2 separate regions of the Homo sapiens genome follow, and region 2 is linked to region 1. A link means that fine-mapping ties the variant in region 1 to the expression of a gene that starts in the linked region. Tissue or cell type: Th17 cells. Region 1 holds a variant in brackets; the other region holds the start of a gene. All regions are shown on one strand. Distances are from middle to middle.

What was found. PIP is the estimated chance that this variant, and not a neighbour inherited with it, causes the effect.
Region 2: it holds the start of GMIP, and the variant in region 1 is fine-mapped to the expression of GMIP in Th17 cells (Schmiedel 2018, PIP 0.92).

What each region holds. Positions count from the first base shown.
Region 1 is chr19:19,563,254-19,571,355 of GRCh38, forward strand. It overlaps PBX4 (PBX homeobox 4), which reads right to left. Exons shown (of 8, transcript NM_025245.3): 3 at 7,333-7,580; 4 at 6,856-7,046; 5 at 6,196-6,331; 6 at 1,680-1,836; 7 at 256-362. Among named protein-coding and RNA genes, the nearest start is that of CILP2, 29 kb to the left of the region's middle. The variant CT/C (reference allele first, on the strand shown) is at 3,447.
Region 2 is chr19:19,638,746-19,646,847 of GRCh38, forward strand. It overlaps GMIP (GEM interacting protein), which reads right to left and starts at 4,912. Exons shown (of 21, transcript NM_016573.4): 1 at 4,766-4,912; 2 at 3,790-3,874; 3 at 3,231-3,306; 4 at 3,065-3,122; 5 at 1,701-1,826; 6 at 1,551-1,615; 7 at 1,340-1,447. The coding sequence starts at 4,784. It overlaps ATP13A1 (ATPase 13A1), which reads right to left. Exons shown (of 26, transcript NM_020410.3): 23 at 7,460-7,602; 24 at 7,129-7,240; 25 at 6,902-7,045; 26 at 6,453-6,787. The coding sequence ends at 6,677. RefSeq lists enhancers at 3,789-4,744, 3,966-4,125 and a silencer at 4,756-5,005.

The DNA.
Region 1 (8,102 bases):
CCCTCATCTTGGGGTTCATCCCCACTGACTGTTCCCAGCGGCTGCCGTGGTGACAAGTGGAGGTGGGGGAGGGCACAGTCATTACAGAGTGGGGCCCTGCAGAGCTGTGCCCCAGAGGTGGCCGCGCAGCATGGCCTGTGTGGCTGCTGGGACCTCTGGGGAAGCTGCCCCAAGGCCGAGGGGTGGCTGACAAGACGACCCTTTCTGAGAACCTACCACCCACCTGGGCGCTGTGGGACAGTGCCTGAGACTCACCTGGGACTGCAGGCAGCCTCCCCCAGGAGGAGGCTGGAGAGAGGCCAGAGTCCGCAGGGTGAGGAAGGCGTCCCCAGCGCTGGGCAGCGGGAAGGGTCCAGAGGAGCCTGGAAGAGATGGGAGCCGGGGTGGGCAGAGTCGTGGCGCCTCCTCAGGTGGAACCCACCCAGCCCCTCAGCCGGCAGGAGGCCTCGAATGTGGCTCCTGCCCCTCCTCAGCATCCGGCCTCTGCTCCTCAGCCCCCACCCAGGCAGGCCAGCGGGCCCTCCCCACCACACTACTCATGTCCCCTCATGGCTTGTCTTTTTTTTTTCTTTTTAAGACAGTCTCGCTCTGTCACCCAGGCTTGAGTGCAGTGGCACGATCTTGGCTCACTGCAAGCTCTGCCTCCCAGGTTCACACCATTCTCCTGCCTCAGCCTCCCAAGTAGCTGGGACTACAGGCGCCCACCACCACGCCCAGATAATTTGTTTTTTCTTTCTTTTTTTTTATTATTATTATACTTTAAGTTTTAGGGTACATGTGCACAATGTGCAGGTTTGTTACGTATGTATACATGTGCCATGCTGGTGTGCTGCACCCACTAACTCGTCATCTAGCATTAGGTATATCTCCCAATGCTATCCCTCCCCCCTCCCCCCACCCCACAACAGTCCCCAGAGTGTGATATTCCCCTTCCTGTGTCCATGTGTTCTCATTGTTCAATTCCCACCTATGAGTGAGAATATGCGGTGTTTGGTTTTTTGTTCTTGCGATAGTTTACTGAGAATGATGATTTCCAGTTTCATCCATGTCCCTACAAAGGACATGAACTCATCATTTTTTATGGCTGCATAGTATTCCATGGTGTATATGTGCCACATTTTCTTAATCCAGTCTATCATTGTTGGACATTTGGGTTGGTTCCAAGTCTTTGCTATTGTGAATTGTATTTTTAGTGGAGATGGGGTTTCACTGTGTTAGCCAGGATGGTCTCTATCTCCTGACCTCGTGATCCGCCCGCCTCGGCCTGGGATTACAGGTGTGAGGCACTGCACCCAGCCCATGCCGGGCTAATTTTTTTTGTATTTTCAGTAGAGACAGGGTTTCACCATGTTGGCCAGGCTGGTCTCAAACTCCTGACCTCAGGTGATCCACTCATCTTGGCCTCCCAAAATGCTGGGATTACAGGTGTGAGCCACCGCACCCAGACCTTTCATGTCTTTTCTTATTAGTATCGCCATTCTGTCCCCAAAGCACAGGTATCTGTTGGTTGGGATCATGGCCAAGAGGAACAGAACTCTCACAGTTGAAACAGAAGAAAGAGTTACACAGAGTTGACCACTGGGGGAAGGGAGATGTGGTCCCACTGTGGCCTCCCCAGATGCAGCTCAGTGGCCGTCCACATGGGTACAGATGACTGTCCCTGGGCCAGCCTCACTCACCGGAGCTAGGTGTTGACAGGCAGCTGGCGTGGTTCCCTGGGACCCCAACTTCCGTGGTATCCACAGCCGTTTTACCCGTGTAAATGGTAGCCTCTTCTTGAAACTTCCCCATGTTCTTTTTATACCGGATTCTTTTGTTGCCAAACCAGTTAGAGACCTGCGGACACACAGGAGTCACTGGAGGAGCTGACCCAGCGACTTCTGAGACACGACGCAGTCTGTGGGTTCCCTGGGGTGCCCGTTGCTCCCACTGCCTTAGAAGACAACACTGCACCCTGGGGCTATGAAGAGTCTGGGACTGAGAAGGTGGCGCCCTCTGAACCACGGACCCAGGGAGATGTCCACATGGGTTGAGGACACCCTGGAGCTGGCGTGTCTTAGAACTCTGCTGCCTAAAACTGGATGTTGCTGGAACCTGAACCTGGGAAGGGGCTGGAAGGAAAACAAGACTGTCTGAGGTGGGCCGGGAGGGACAGCGCCTCTGGCTGCCATGCAGCAGGCGGCAGGTTACGTTCCGTGTTCTCTTCAGGAAAAGTGAGAGCCAGGGAGACCTGGGGACCCAGTAACTGCGATCGAATCCCAAACTTATCAAATGAAAACAAGGTGAACTCTGAAGGGGTAGTTGGAATGTACCAGGTGCTAGGATAAGCACTTCTCATATATTCATATATTTTTCTTAATTTTAATTAAAAAAAGGTTTTTTGGCCGGGCGTGGTGGCTCACGCCTGTAATCTCAGCACTTTGGGAGGCTGAGGTGGGGGGATCATCTGAGGTCAGGAGTTCGAGACCAGCCTGGACAACATGGAGAAACCCCATCTCTACTAATAATACAAATATTAGCTGGACACAGTGGCACATGCCTGTAATCCCAGCTACTCGGGAGGCTGAGGCAGGAGAATCACTTGAACCTGGGAGGCAGAGGTTGCAGTGAGCCAAGATCGCACTGCAATTTAGCCTGGGCAACAGAGTGAGACCCTGTCTCAGAAAAAAAAATATATTTTTTCTTTTTTTTTAGAGATAGGGTCTCGCTCTGTTGCCCAGGCTGGTCTCAAACCCCTGGGCTTGAGAGTTCCTCCCGCCCTGGCCTCCCAAAATGCTGGGATTCCAGGCCCAGCCTCATATATCATTCTGCCTCATCCTCATGAGGACCTGGGAGGCAGCTGTTATCGTCCCTGCTGTAAGAAAGCAGAGGCAGGAGAAAAAGGAGCTAGTCCATGGCCAAGGTGGAATCAGCCCAGCTCTGACTGCAAACTGGCACTGGAGTCCCCCAGGGAGGGGCTTGTCACCTTTGGTGGCACTGCTGATGCTTGGGCTCCATCTGCTCTGTGGGGGCTGTCCTGTACACTGCAGGGTGCTGAGCGGTATCCTTGGCACCCACTGGGTGCCAGGAGCACTTCCCTTCTCTAGTCGTGACAACAAAAATGTCCCCTGGGCAGATTCACATGGGTGAGCACCCCAGGGCCAGCGCCTTCCTACAGGCATGGAGACGTCCATCCAGGGCCACATTTCAGTATCCCAAAGCAAGTAAAATAAACGTATAGTATAATAACACACAGAAATGAAACAGCTGAGGGATGGAAGAGGATTGTGGATGACCTTTGCTACTTCAAACATTTTTTTCTCACTCTGTCACCCAGGCTGGAGTGCAGCGGTGCGATCTCAGCTCACTGCAACCTCTGCCTCCCAGATTCAAGTGATTCTCTTGCCTCAGCCTCACCAGTAGCTGGGACTACAGGCACGTGCTACCAAGCCTGGCTAATTTTTGTA[CT/C]TTTTTTTTTTTTTTTTTTCGGAGACGGAGTCTCACTCTGTCACCCAGGCTGGAGTGTGGAGTGCAGTGGTGCGACCTCAACTCACTGCAACCTCCGCCTCCCTGGTTCAAATGATTCTCCTGCCTCAGCCTCCCCAGTAGCGGGATTGCAGGCATGTGCCACCAAGCCTGGCTAATTTTTGTATTTCCAGTAGCCACGGGGTTTCACCATGTTGGCCAGGCTGGTCTCGAACTCCTGACCTCAGGTGATTCGTCCGCCTTGGCCTCCAAAGTGCTGGGATTTCAGGCATGAGCCACCATGCCTGGCCAACATTTGGTGTACTTACATTATCCTTGCAATGTTAAGTATAAAAAGAAGGATCCCTGTCTGTGTGCTCTCTGTTCCAAACATAGTGTCTGCCTACCCCGGGGGTGTGAGCAGCCTTCTCTTGATCCACATGGGAGGCCCCAGAGGCTCCATCCTGGTTGAAGCAGCCCTGGTTGTCCTCCAGACAATTGTTCCTTGGGGGCCAAATGTCTCACGCTTCTCCAGGGGCCTTGAAGACCCAGAGGCGCAGCCCCTTGCTCCAGCTCTGGCCTTGTTTCTGACACCACAGCAGATCCCGATGAGCAAAGTCATATGTGACTATGACCTCAGGATGTTTTGCTGCCTGCGTGACCCCGAGGGGTTCCAATTGCTCTCTGTCACAGAGACTTGACTGGACTTAGCCTGGGTTGGAGCAGAGCATGGTGGTGAAGGACTAGAAACTCAGCCCCTCCAACTGCAAAGTAGGGAGGGCTGTGGTGACATGCAGCAAGCCATGCTGTGGGTCAGCACCTGCCATTCCTGCTGCCATAGAGGCTGTGGGGCTGTGCCTGCCCAGGTGGGAGGGCGGCACCCAGGCCCTGTTCCACACACTCATGCTGCCACGGGGGTATGGCCTGGACCTGGCTTGCTGCCATAGGCTGCCTGGACTTACTGTTTCCATGTTAAAACCTTCGGAAATATTTCTTAGCCTCTTGGTCTTAGTGTCTCCCTCTTTCACCCCCAGTTCCACAGAGGACACTGGTGGCTGCCTACCAGGCTATAGAGTCAGGGAGCTCACACTCTCTACCACGTCACCTCAGGGGGCTCACACTCCACAGCATCCCCCAGGGAACTCACACTCCATCTCAATCACCTCAGGGAGCTCACACTCCATCTGTATCCCTCAGGGAGCTCACACCCCACCTGTATCCCTCAGGCAGCTCACACTCCATCTGTATCTCTCAGGGAGCTCACACTCCATCTCTGTCCCTCAGGGAGCTCACACTCCACCTCAATCACCTCAGGGAACTCACACTCCATCTTTATCCCTCAGGGAGCTCACATTCCATCAGTATCCCTCAGGGAGCTCACACTCTATCTGTAACCCTCAGGGAGCTCACACTCCATCTGTATCCCTCAGGGAGCTCACACTCCATCTGTAACCCTCAGGGAGCTCACACTCCATCTGTATCCCTCAGGGAGCTCACACTCTACCAGTATCCCTCAGGGAGCTCACACTCCATCTGTATCCCTCAGGGAGCTCACACTCCATCTGTAACCCTCAGGGAGCTCACACTCCATCTGTATCCCTCAGGGAGCTCACACTCTATCAGTATCCCTCAGGGAGCTCACACTCCATCTGTATCCCTCAGGGAGCTCACACTCTATCAGTATCCCTCAGGGAGCTCACACTCCATCTGTATCCCTCAGGGAGCTCACACTCCATCTGTATCCCTCAGGGAGCTCACACTCCACCTCAGTCACCTCAGGGAACTCACACTCCATCTGTATCCCTCAAGGAGCTCACACTCCATCTGTATCCCTCAGGGAACTCACACTCCATCTGTATCCCTCAAGGAGCTCACACTCCATCTGTATCCCTCAGGGAACTCACACTCCATCTGTATCCCTCAAGGAGCTCACACTCCATCTGTATCCCTCAGGAAGCTCACACTCCGTCTGTATCCCTCAGGGAGCTCATACTCTGTCTGTAACCCTCAGGGAGCTCACACTCTGTCTGTATCCCTCAGGGAGCTCACACTCCATCTGTATCCCTCAGGGAGCTCATACTCTGTCTGTATCCCTCAGGGAGTTCACACTCTGTCTGTAACCCTCAGGGAGCTCACACTCCGTCTGTGTCCCTCAGGGAGCTCACACTCCACAGCATCACCTCTGGGACCTCGCATTCCATCTGCATCGCTCAGGAAGTCCTCAGGTCTCTCTGTGGGTACACTTGCACCCCTGCCTCACAGATGAACGGGGAGAGCGCTGGAGTCCCACATTTGTAATGCAGAGCCTGGATCTGAGCTGGCCTGGCTGACTCAGAGCCTGGAGACTTGGCTCCTGTTCCACACTTTTTTTGTTTTTCAGAGATAGGATCTCACTCTGTCACCCAGGCTGGAATGCAGTGGCGCCATCATAGCTCACTGCAGCCTCACCCTCCTGGGCTCAAGTGATCCTTCCACCTCAGCATCCGAAGGAGCTGAGACCACAGGTGCACACCACCAAGCCCAGCTAATTTTTTAAATTTTTTGTAGAGACAGTGTCTCACTATGTTGCCCAGGCTGGTCTCGAACTCCTGGCCTCAAGCGACCCTCCTACCTCATCCTCCCAAAGTGCTGGGATTCCAGCAGCCATGCCTGGCCTCTGCACACATTTAACAAACTTCCCTGGGTGTCCTCATGGGACCTAGTCATCCACTCCTCCCAGGCGTGGCGAGACGTGGCAGGAGAGAACGTCACCTGGGAGATGGTGAGGCCGCCCTTCCTGGCCAGCTCTTCTTTGGCTTCTTCGCTGGGGTAAGGGTTGTTCAGATGGGAGTAAAAATACTCATTCAGCACTTCCGTCGCCTGCTTGCTGAAATTCCGCCGCTTGCGCCTGCAAAAACAGCCGCCTTCGTAGGCATTAATATGCTGGGACTCCAGTACCACCCCCACCTCTAGTTCTGAGTATGATTTTCCAGTAGTTCTGAAAACAGCAATCACTTGAGGTCAGGAGTTCGAGACCAGCGTGGTCAACATAGTGAAACCCCGTTTCTACTAAAAACACAAAAATTAGCTGGGCATGGTGGCGGGAGCCTGTAATCCCAGCTACTCGGGAGGCTGAAGCAGTAGAATCGCTTGAACCTGGGAGGCGGAGGTTGTGGTGAGTGGAGATCGCACCACTGCACTCCAGCCTGGGCACCAGAGTGAGACTCCGTCTCAAATAAATAAATAAATAAATACAAAATAAAATAAAAATGAAAACAGCAATACTTCAGGCCTTCTTCCCAAGAGGCTGTGAGGCCTCCAACCGTGACTGCAGACACAGCCTCCAGGGCTGTCTTCAACCCAAGCCAGCACTATTTCCCTCCAGTCCCTCAGAGCCGGCCCTTGAGGTTTTGGGTACGTACAGGCCCTGACCTGGCATCGAGCAGCCGCGAACGCAGGGTCATCACTGCCTCACAGGTGCTCTGCTTCAACTGCATCTGGATGGCGCTGAACTTGCCGTGAATGGCGCCGACCATGCGCTCAATCTCCTTAGGGGAGACAGGCCTCATCCTGCTCTGCTCCTGGAGGAGGTTGGTGACGTGCGTGGTGAACTCACGACAGGCCTGGGGTGGGAGCACAGACACGCCGGCCTGTGACTAGGCAGCAGGGTGGCACAGGGCAGCAGGTTCCACAGCGGAGCAGCCGCCTGCCACCCCCTGTAGTTCACACACCGGCGGGTGACTGTTAAGTAAATGGAAAGGGCTTTCAGTAACAATGGACCACCTCTGCAGCGACCAACTGCATGGACTCCCTGTTCTGCGCCACGAAAGAAAGGTGGTTAGCGTTCCGTGTTTCGCTTTGACAAATGCGCATTCACATGACAGAAACTCTTCCATGCAGAAAGATCACCTGTTCATATTTCTCTAGCTCAGAGTGGTAAATCTGTCGGATCTGGGACAGCTTGGCCCTGTAGTCAGAGTGCTCAATGCTATTGTCATTTGGACAGCCACCTGGTGTTGCTGTGCCGGCCCTGGCCACCGCTCCTCCTCTTCCTCTCTTCTCGGGCCTGCACACGCCCTCAGCCAGCAGCATGTTATCCAGCCTCAGGAGCTGGGCGTCAGGGGGATCTTCGTCTTGAATGCCACGGATGCTTACCACTAGATAAGAGAGACCGGGACAAGTCACAATTCATTTTCTGGAGAGAAAACAAACCATGAGAAAATGTGAGCACTGGTGTTATGTCTGAAGATTTTTGCATAGAACCCTTCGGGAGAAAGGAATACTCCACTTTATCACCAAATTGGATGATGGACACTGAGCACCCCGCTAAGACATGGGTCCAAGTGCCATCCTTAGAGCGCAGTCTGGGGAGGAACGGGGAGACACAGGTCGCAGTTTGGCATAGCCTGTGAGGGCAAACCTTGGTCACAGCTGTGTGCACGCAGCAGGGCCAGGCAGGCGCCTGTTGCTGGGGTCACCTGAACCCCTGAACCGAGTCTCAAGAAGTGCTGGGGAAGAGGGGGCACCCAAGATGCTGCATACTGATAAAGGCAAGTGGCAGGCTGGCATTGGCAGCGTGGCTGGCCTGGGCCCAGGACTGTGCAGCTGTAGGCCTGTTGTGGCTGGTGGGTGGGGTGTGTGTGTGTTGGGGTGGGGGTGCTGTTATAAAACTGGATAGG
Region 2 (8,102 bases), 75 kb after region 1:
CTAGGCCTAGTTAATTTAAAAAACAATTTCTTCTTTTTTTTTTTTTTTTTGGTTGGCCAGGTGTAGTGGCTCATGCCTTTAATCCCAGCACTTGGGAGGCCAAAGTGGGCAGATCACCTGAGGCCAGGAGTTCAAGACCAGCCTGACCAACATGGTGAAACCCCGTCTCTACAAAAATACAAAAATTATAAAGATGTGATGGCACACTCCTATAGTCCCACCTACTCGGGAGGCTGAGGCAGGAGAATCACTTGAACCCGGGAGGCAGAGGTTGCAGTGAGCTGAGATCATGCCACTGCACTCCAGCCTGGATGATAAAGTGAGACTCTGTCTCAAAAAAAAAAATAAATAAATAAATTTTTTTTGGTAGATAAAGACAGGGATCTCACTATGTTGCCCAGGTTAGTCTCGAACTCCTGGCCTCAAGCAATCCTCCACCCTCAGCCTCCTAGTAGCTAGCACTGCAGACATGTGCACCAGGCCCAGCTAATTAAAAAACTTTTTTTTTTTTTTTGTAGAGACAGGGGGTCTCACTATGTTGCCCAGGTTGGTCTCAAACTCCTGGGCTCAAGCAATCCTCCCTCCTTGGCCCCCAGAAGTGCTGGGATTACAGGCATGAGCCACCGTGCCAGGCTGGACCCTTTTCTGAGTCAGTATTCTCCTCCTGGGGTCTTCTCCAGACCTGCTCTCCCCGACCCCTGAGTCCAGAAGTCTCATGTAGTCACCCCATCCTTTCTGCTTGGAAGCAGAGACACCAAGGCTTTCCTCCTGAGAACACTCAGCACCTCGTTCCCCTCCCCACAAACAAAAACGAAGTTTTTGGCTGGGCGTGGTGGCTCACGCCTGTAATCCCACCACTTTGGGAAGCTGAGGTAGGTGGATTACCTGAGGTCAGGAGTTGGAGACCAGCCTGGCCAACATGGTGAAACCCCATCTGTACTAAAAATACAAAAATTAGCCGGGCGTGGTGGCAGGCGCCTGTAATCCCAGCTACTCAGGAGGCTGAGGCAAGTGAATTGCTTGAACCCAAGAAGCGGAGGTTGCAGTGAGCTGAGATCGCACCATTGCACCCCAGCCTGGGCAAAAGAGCAAGATATTCTGTCTCAAGAAAAAAAGTAAAGTGAAGTTTTGCAATTGCACAGGAAGCCCAGCTTGAATCTTTGCTGGGTAACCTTGGGCAAGTTCCCAAGCATCCCCGGGCCTCAGCTTCCTCATCAATGAAATGGCGACGTTGGTAGTGGTGCCTTCCTCCCAGCTTGCTGGGAAACGAGGGGATCAGGCCTGAAGGACAGCAGGATAGCAGGGTGACCTCTGTAACATTCCACCCTGCCCCCCTCACCTGGTAGTAGTCTCTTTTCTGCTGGGCCACTGTCTCCATGGCCAGGGTTCCCAGGCTGAGATCGTGCTCCAGAAACAGGGTGTAGATGTACTGCAGAGGCATGTGGCTCTGGGGAAGACAGAGTGGTGTAGGAGGATACTGAAGATCTGTGGGGGACAAAGGTGGGGTTCTAGGGGGCTTGGGCTCTCCGGGGGGGTCTGGTCATGACTACCTGCTGTTGAATGGACACCTTGCCAGCTTCAGCGATCTTCATGGTGCTCTTAGCAAACTCCAGCTCTGGGGGAAGAGAGAGCCGGGCTCTGGGTCTAGCTGGGGTCTGGGGACTGCCTGGTAACTGGGGCTGGGCGGAAGAGGTCCTCACCATAGCTGGCTCTCTTTTCAGTCCAGGCAAGCAGTTCCTTGGCATAGCGGCTCCAGGTCTTGGCATATTCCAGGGCTGCGTCCACACCCCCCTTTGTCCGAATGAGCCGCAAGTCCAGTTCCTCCCCTGGGGAAGATGGATGGACCTCTGACCTTTGCACCCTAGTCTGCTATGGATGTCTTCCCTAAGCCCCCAGACCAGCCCAGTGGCACCTGTCCTACAGCCTCACAGCTCCCCAAACACTACTTTGGGATCACTTGTCCTGGTTGCAATTTTACAGATTCACTGTTTTTTGTTTTTTATTTTTTATTATTTTATTATTTATTTATTTATTTTTGAGACTGTGTTTCGCTCTTGTTGCCCAGGCTAGAGTGCAATGGCGCGATTTTGGCTCACCAAAACCTCTGCCTCCCGGGTTCAAGCGATTCTCCTGCCTCAGCCTCCTGAGTAGCTGGGATTACAGGCATGCGCCACCATGCCCGGCTAATTTTTTGTATTTTTAGTAGAGACGAGGTTTCTCTATGTTGGTCAGGCTGGTCTCGAACTCCCAATCTCAGGTGATCTGCCCGCCTCGGCCTCCCAAAGTGCTGGGATTACAGGCATGAGCCACCGTGCCCGGCCTGTGTTTGATGGGTTTTTTTATTTTTATTTTTGAGGCGGAGTCTCGCTCTGTCGCTCAGGCTGGAGTGCAATGGCCCTATTTTGCCTCACTGCAAGCTCCGCCTCCTGGGTTCCCGCCATTCTCCTGCCTCAGCCTCCCGAGTATCTGGGACTACAGGCACTCGCCACTGCGCCCGGCTAAATTTTTTTGTATTTTTAGTAGAGATGGGGTTTCACCATGTTAGCCAGGATGGTCTCGATCTCCTGACCTCGTGGTCCACCCGCCTCAGCCTCCAAAGTGCTGGGATTACAGGCGTGAGCCACTGCGTCCGGCCTTGTGTTTGATTTTTTTGGACATGGTCTTGCTCTGTCATCCAGGCTGGAGTGCAGTGGCACAATCGTATCTCACTGCAGCCTCAAAGTCCTGGGCTTAATCAGTCCTCCAGCCTCAGCTTCCAAAGTAGCTGGGACTACAGGCACACACCACCACACCCAGCTAATTAAAAAAATATTTTTTCTTTTGGTAGGGATGGTGTCTTACTGTTGCCCAGCATGGTCACGAATTCCTGGCTTCAAGTGATCCTCCTACCTCAGCCTCCACCCTGCCTGGGGTCTCCCTGAGGGCTGGGACTGAGATCTGTTGTGTGTACTGCCATATTCCCAAAACCTAAACGATGCCTTGCATGGAACAGGGGATCAGTGGTGATTTGTTGAAGGAAAGACTCCTGTCTGTCCCCACTGTCCTGGCCTCCAGACCCCCCTACCTGTGAGGGGTACAGGACCCTCTGGGGAGGGGCCGCTCCAACAGCTGGCTTCGTTGGTCTGTGCGGGAGGGAGACAGTATTCAGAAGCAAACAGGGCAGGGGCCTGGCCTTCCTAAGGCCCCCTCTGCTTGAGGTCTTCCTCCCTGTTCCCCTACTCCCCACTCACAACAGTGGCTGTAGGGGTCTTGTCAGGTTCTGGGTCTTCTGAGAGTAGAGGGTCTCCAGCCAGCATCTCAAGGGTCCTGGGGGATAAAGGTGTGTCAGGATGCCACCTTACACCCAGTCTGTCCTGCCAAGGGGTGCTGGGGACCTTAGGGTTGTTTGTGGCAAACATCACCTCTGTGGCATCTCTTGTGTCTGGGAGGTCTGAAGAATGGTGTTTTGGGGGAATCAGGTGAGTTTTTTTTAAATAGGACTTGAAAAAGCATCTGAAGGGCCCCAGATAACTTTGAGGTTCATAGAGTGGGATTATAGGGATCGCAAATATTTTAAGGGGTTACAAGGATATGTAGGGGTTCTAGGACCACTTTGGGGATTTCCAGTCTATTTAGGGGGACACTTTTAGGATACCGAGGCATTTTGGAGGGTCCCATCCTAGACTTCTCTGGTTATTAGGTATGTAGGTCCAGATGTTACAGGTTCCAAATGGGACTGCAAGGCACCTAAATGGTTAGGGGCTTGGGGCATCTTGGCAGGATTTGGGGGTGATCCAGGCTCAGACTCACACGTTCCCCAGTGAGATTTCGAGGTTGTCCAGGCTCCGGAAGATGTCACTGTACCTCTTCCTGCCCTCAGGACCTGGGGGGAGTCCTAGGGGAGGGGAGTGTAATACATGGGCTAACCACTGCCTCCCTCCACCCACGGCACCTCAACCAGTCTCATTTGGAGGGGGTGGAAGAGAAAGGGAAGAGTGAGAGAGAGAAAGAGAGGGCTGGGGGGGGCTTGGTTGGGGCCAACTCGAGGCAGGCAGATGGACTCACACACCACCAGAGACCAGAGACAGCTGCTCGGGGAACAGAGACACCCACTCCCTGGGTCTGCCTGCACCCAGAAGCAAACCAACAAAACAGATGCCCCAGATGCAACCAGGCTGTCCCGAGAAGAAAGCCGGTCTGACAATGGAACCACGGGCTAGACAGATGGAAATACACAAGGGACAGCCAGGCAGAGCCTGGGGCAGAAACACACATGGAGAGACTGAAGCCGTGAGGGACATAAAGACCGAATGACACTCCACATACACAACACAGACACAAAGACGGCCGGAAACACCAAGTCGGACCCCGCCACATTTCTACTGCTGCCCCCCTGCCCCCTCTCCTAAGGGGCCTAGACCAGCACTGCCGACTCCCCAGGGCTACAGAGGGGCCCTGTGGGGATCCTACCGCGTTGCCCTCTCCCTCAGCAGTCGTGGCACCCTGCCCCCATCACAAAAATCAGAAGCAGAAGCAGTCACTTCCCCTTCCTGGGCCCCCTCCCCCAGGCGTCTGGGGTGAGGGATCAAAAGGGGGAGGGGGAGTGAAGGGCTGGGGTCCTGAACCCATCCGGGCACAGGGCTCCCCACAATGGAGGATCCCTGGGTCCTTCCCATTCAGGAACTCCTCTCCTGGCTCTCAGGACGGAGCGGGACAAGTGTGTGCCCTCAATGTAGGAAGCAGGGGATGGTCGGGGGAGGCCCCTCCCGGATCCCCGACCCCCTACCCGGCTCTGCTGCGTCCATATCTGGGCCCGGGGATCGCTCTGCAGGGACCGGGATGGGGATGGGGTCGCGCGCCGGCGGGGCCGAGCCCCGATTTCCTGCCGCCGCAGCCGCCGCCGCCGCCTCGGTTCCGCGTCGCCCTGCCCAGCGGAGGCCACGCCCCCGCATCAGACCACGCCCCCGTAGCCCGGAAGCCTTGATAGTGCCCTTCTCTACCTGAGCCGCTTGAAACTGGGTCGGGCCAGGGCCCCCTGAGCGACCACTCGAGGCTGCAGTGCCCCTGACCTGGGCATCCTAAGACTTCATCTGGGCCATAGGTTCCCTCTCAGATCTTTGTGCTACCCCAAATCCCACGGAGCCCCAGCCCCCTCCTCCCTGAATGGTTGCAGAGTCCACCTGTCCCGGGGGGCCTCTCCCAGGAGCTCCCACAACCCGCGACCCTGGTGATCCCCTTGCCCAGGTTGTCTCTCGGAGCCCTGAAACCACCTGGGCCTCGCTGGAGCCATGGCGCCCCCTGGTGGAGGCCTGATATTCTGTCCGATTCCAACCAAAATTCTAATACTCGGGCTGGAGAACCCCTGGCCTGGGGGACGCCCCTTCCGTGACCCTCAAAGCTGGATCAGGCTCAAGGCCCCAATTACAGCACACCAGGGAGCAGCCCTTTTAGGTAGGGAGTGGAGGTTTGTCCAAAAGCACCAGCTCTGGGGTTGCCACAAGCCGCCTGTTATAAAAATGCTCCCACCCCCAGCACAGTGGAATTTTGGGGCTGGAAATAGACTTTAAAGTATGTTTATAACTTTGTGTCCAAAGGCTTTGGCTGTTAAGGAGGCAAGGATTCTCTGACTGGCTCCGTGCTGCCTACTCTGCAGTTCTTGAGTTGTGATGAGTGAGTCCATTGAAAGGAATAACACTATCAACCTAAGAGCCAAGCCAGGTTTCCAGGTCACATCCTGGCTGATGCTCAGCCAGAGCTCCCTGACTGTGACATGAGATGGTAGAGCAGCGCAGGCCCCCAAAGAGCATGACAGAGTCAGTACTTGTTTGTTTTTCTTTTGAGTTGGAGTCTCGCTCTGTTGCCCAGGCTGGAGTGCAGTGGCGTTATCTCGGCTCACTGCAAGCTCCACCTCCTGGGTTCACGCCATTCTCCTGCCTCAGCCTCCCGAGTAACTGGGACTACAGGCACTCGCCACCATGCCTGGCTAATTTTTTGTATTTTTAGTAGAGATGGGGTTTCACTGTGTTAGCCAGGATGGTCTCGATCTCCTGACCTTGTGATGGGCCCGCCTTGGCCTCCCAAAGTGCTGGGATTACAGGCTTGAGCCACCGGACAGAGTCAATACTTGTAATGATGCAGATCATATTCCTCAAGTCTCAGACACCACCCGAGAGAAAGGCATGCTGTTATGTATTATGGGAAAGAAAAAAATATCACACATCCTAAGGCTTCTCTCAGCACCTGAGTTGTTAAAATGTGAAAGAGACCTCAGAAATATGGGGGTGCTTGTTAAACTAGAAAATATGCACTGAATTCTCTGGGCAGGGACAAGTCCATGTTCAAGTGCTGAAAGTGCCAGAGGGTTTCACCAACATCACACGCCTGTGGGGAGGGTGCTGGGACCTTCCTCAGTGACCCTCTGTCCCCGAGCCCCCAGCAAACACCGTGTGGCACAGACGAGGTGGAGGCAGGGCTTTTTAAAATCTCAGATGCTGCTTTATTTACCAAAGGTGCTGGCTTGGGGCTGGTTCTGCTGGCCAAGCCAGCGGATGGCTGTGGGGGTCCCAGCTCAGTCTTCCAAGGGCGAGACTGTACAGCCTTGCTGTGGGGGGTTGGGGGCAGGGTTCCCTCCCGGGGCCCTGTTGGGGTTCCCGCCCAGCGGCAGCCAGGGTGGGCAGTGGGTACCAGCACTGCCATCTCAGGAAGGCACTTTCAGCTTCGGGGTCCCCAGGAAGAACTGCAGGACGCGGTCGGCCAGGAGCGCCAGGCAGAAGTCCAGGAGCAGGACCTGGGCAATGACCAGCTTGAACTGTCGGGGCAGGGAGGGATGGTGAGCTGGAGACCTGCAGCCCAGCTCAGGGTCACTGCCATAGGAGGGACCCATCAAGCTGAGCCCCAGGGTCACCTCCACAGGGCCACTGACCTCCACAGGGATGTCCACGAGGCCAAACTGGCTGTTGAAGTCGGGCGAGGAGCCGAGGAGCAGGCCAATGATGGCCAGGAGTGAAACTGCCAGACTCCACACCAGGGGCTTGTTCTCGGGCAGGCTCTCCATGAAGGGCGGGCCCTGTGGGGATGAGGGACAGATGGCTTCATGGGGTGGGGCTGGGTGGGCAGACAGTGAATGTTTGGGCAGGGCCCAGGCCTTACTTTGTAATTGATGGCGAAGGTGGCCATCTGCATGGCCATGGCCATGATGTAGACGGTGCTGTTGACCAGGCTTGGCTCAAACTCCTTGTACAAGTCCACGAACTGCTCCTGCCTGCAAGGACACATGGGAGTCAGGGCCCCCTCTCCTGCTCCGGCTCACACACACTGTGTGGCTTCCTGCTGCCCTGGCACAGAGCTAGGGCTCTGCCTGGCCTAGTGCCCCTCCCTGGACACCCTGGACAACCCCCAGCCTCTCCTGCTGAAGTCTGTGGAGTCATCCTCCTGCTATTCTCAGCTGCAGGGACATCACCTCCTCCAAGGCAGCACTTACTTCTCGGGGCTCCGGGCCTGGGCCTCACGGTACAGGTAGACAAGGCTCAGGAAGTGCACAAAGAACTGGAGCATGACGGTGAGGATGGTGTACAGGTTGAAGATGTTGGGCAGGGGCCGTTCTCGGGAGAGGGTCTTGAGGGGCTGCAGCAGCAAGGCGGGTGGGGGAGTCAGGATCTGGCTCACTTGGGGCCACCCTGCCCACACAGCAGGCAGTAACATCCCCTGCCTCCCGGGAGACCTTGTGTACAGCCACCACCAAATCCTGGGGGATTCCATGGGTCAGCACCAGTCCCTGGATCCCTGCCTGCCTCTCACCCCTGAGCCCAGGGCTGCCTCCCTGGCCCCGGCTCCGCCATCCAGGCTCCCCATGGCAGCCACAGGGGCCTGAGAATCATGAAGCAGATCCTGCCCTCCCTGGAGCCCACGGGACAGGCACAGTCCCGCCCAGCCAATCTCCCACCCCCTCCAGCCACCGGGGACTCCCTGCGTCAGCCCATGCCTGTTTGGGGCCTTTGTGTCCAGTTCCTGGCCGCTGGCCCCCCTGGTTCTTTACGCCTTGGCCTGAGTGTCGGTGTCGCACAGGCCTCCCCAGCTGTCCACCAGCCTGTCCTGTGTAGCCTATGACCCACTTAGTTGTTTTT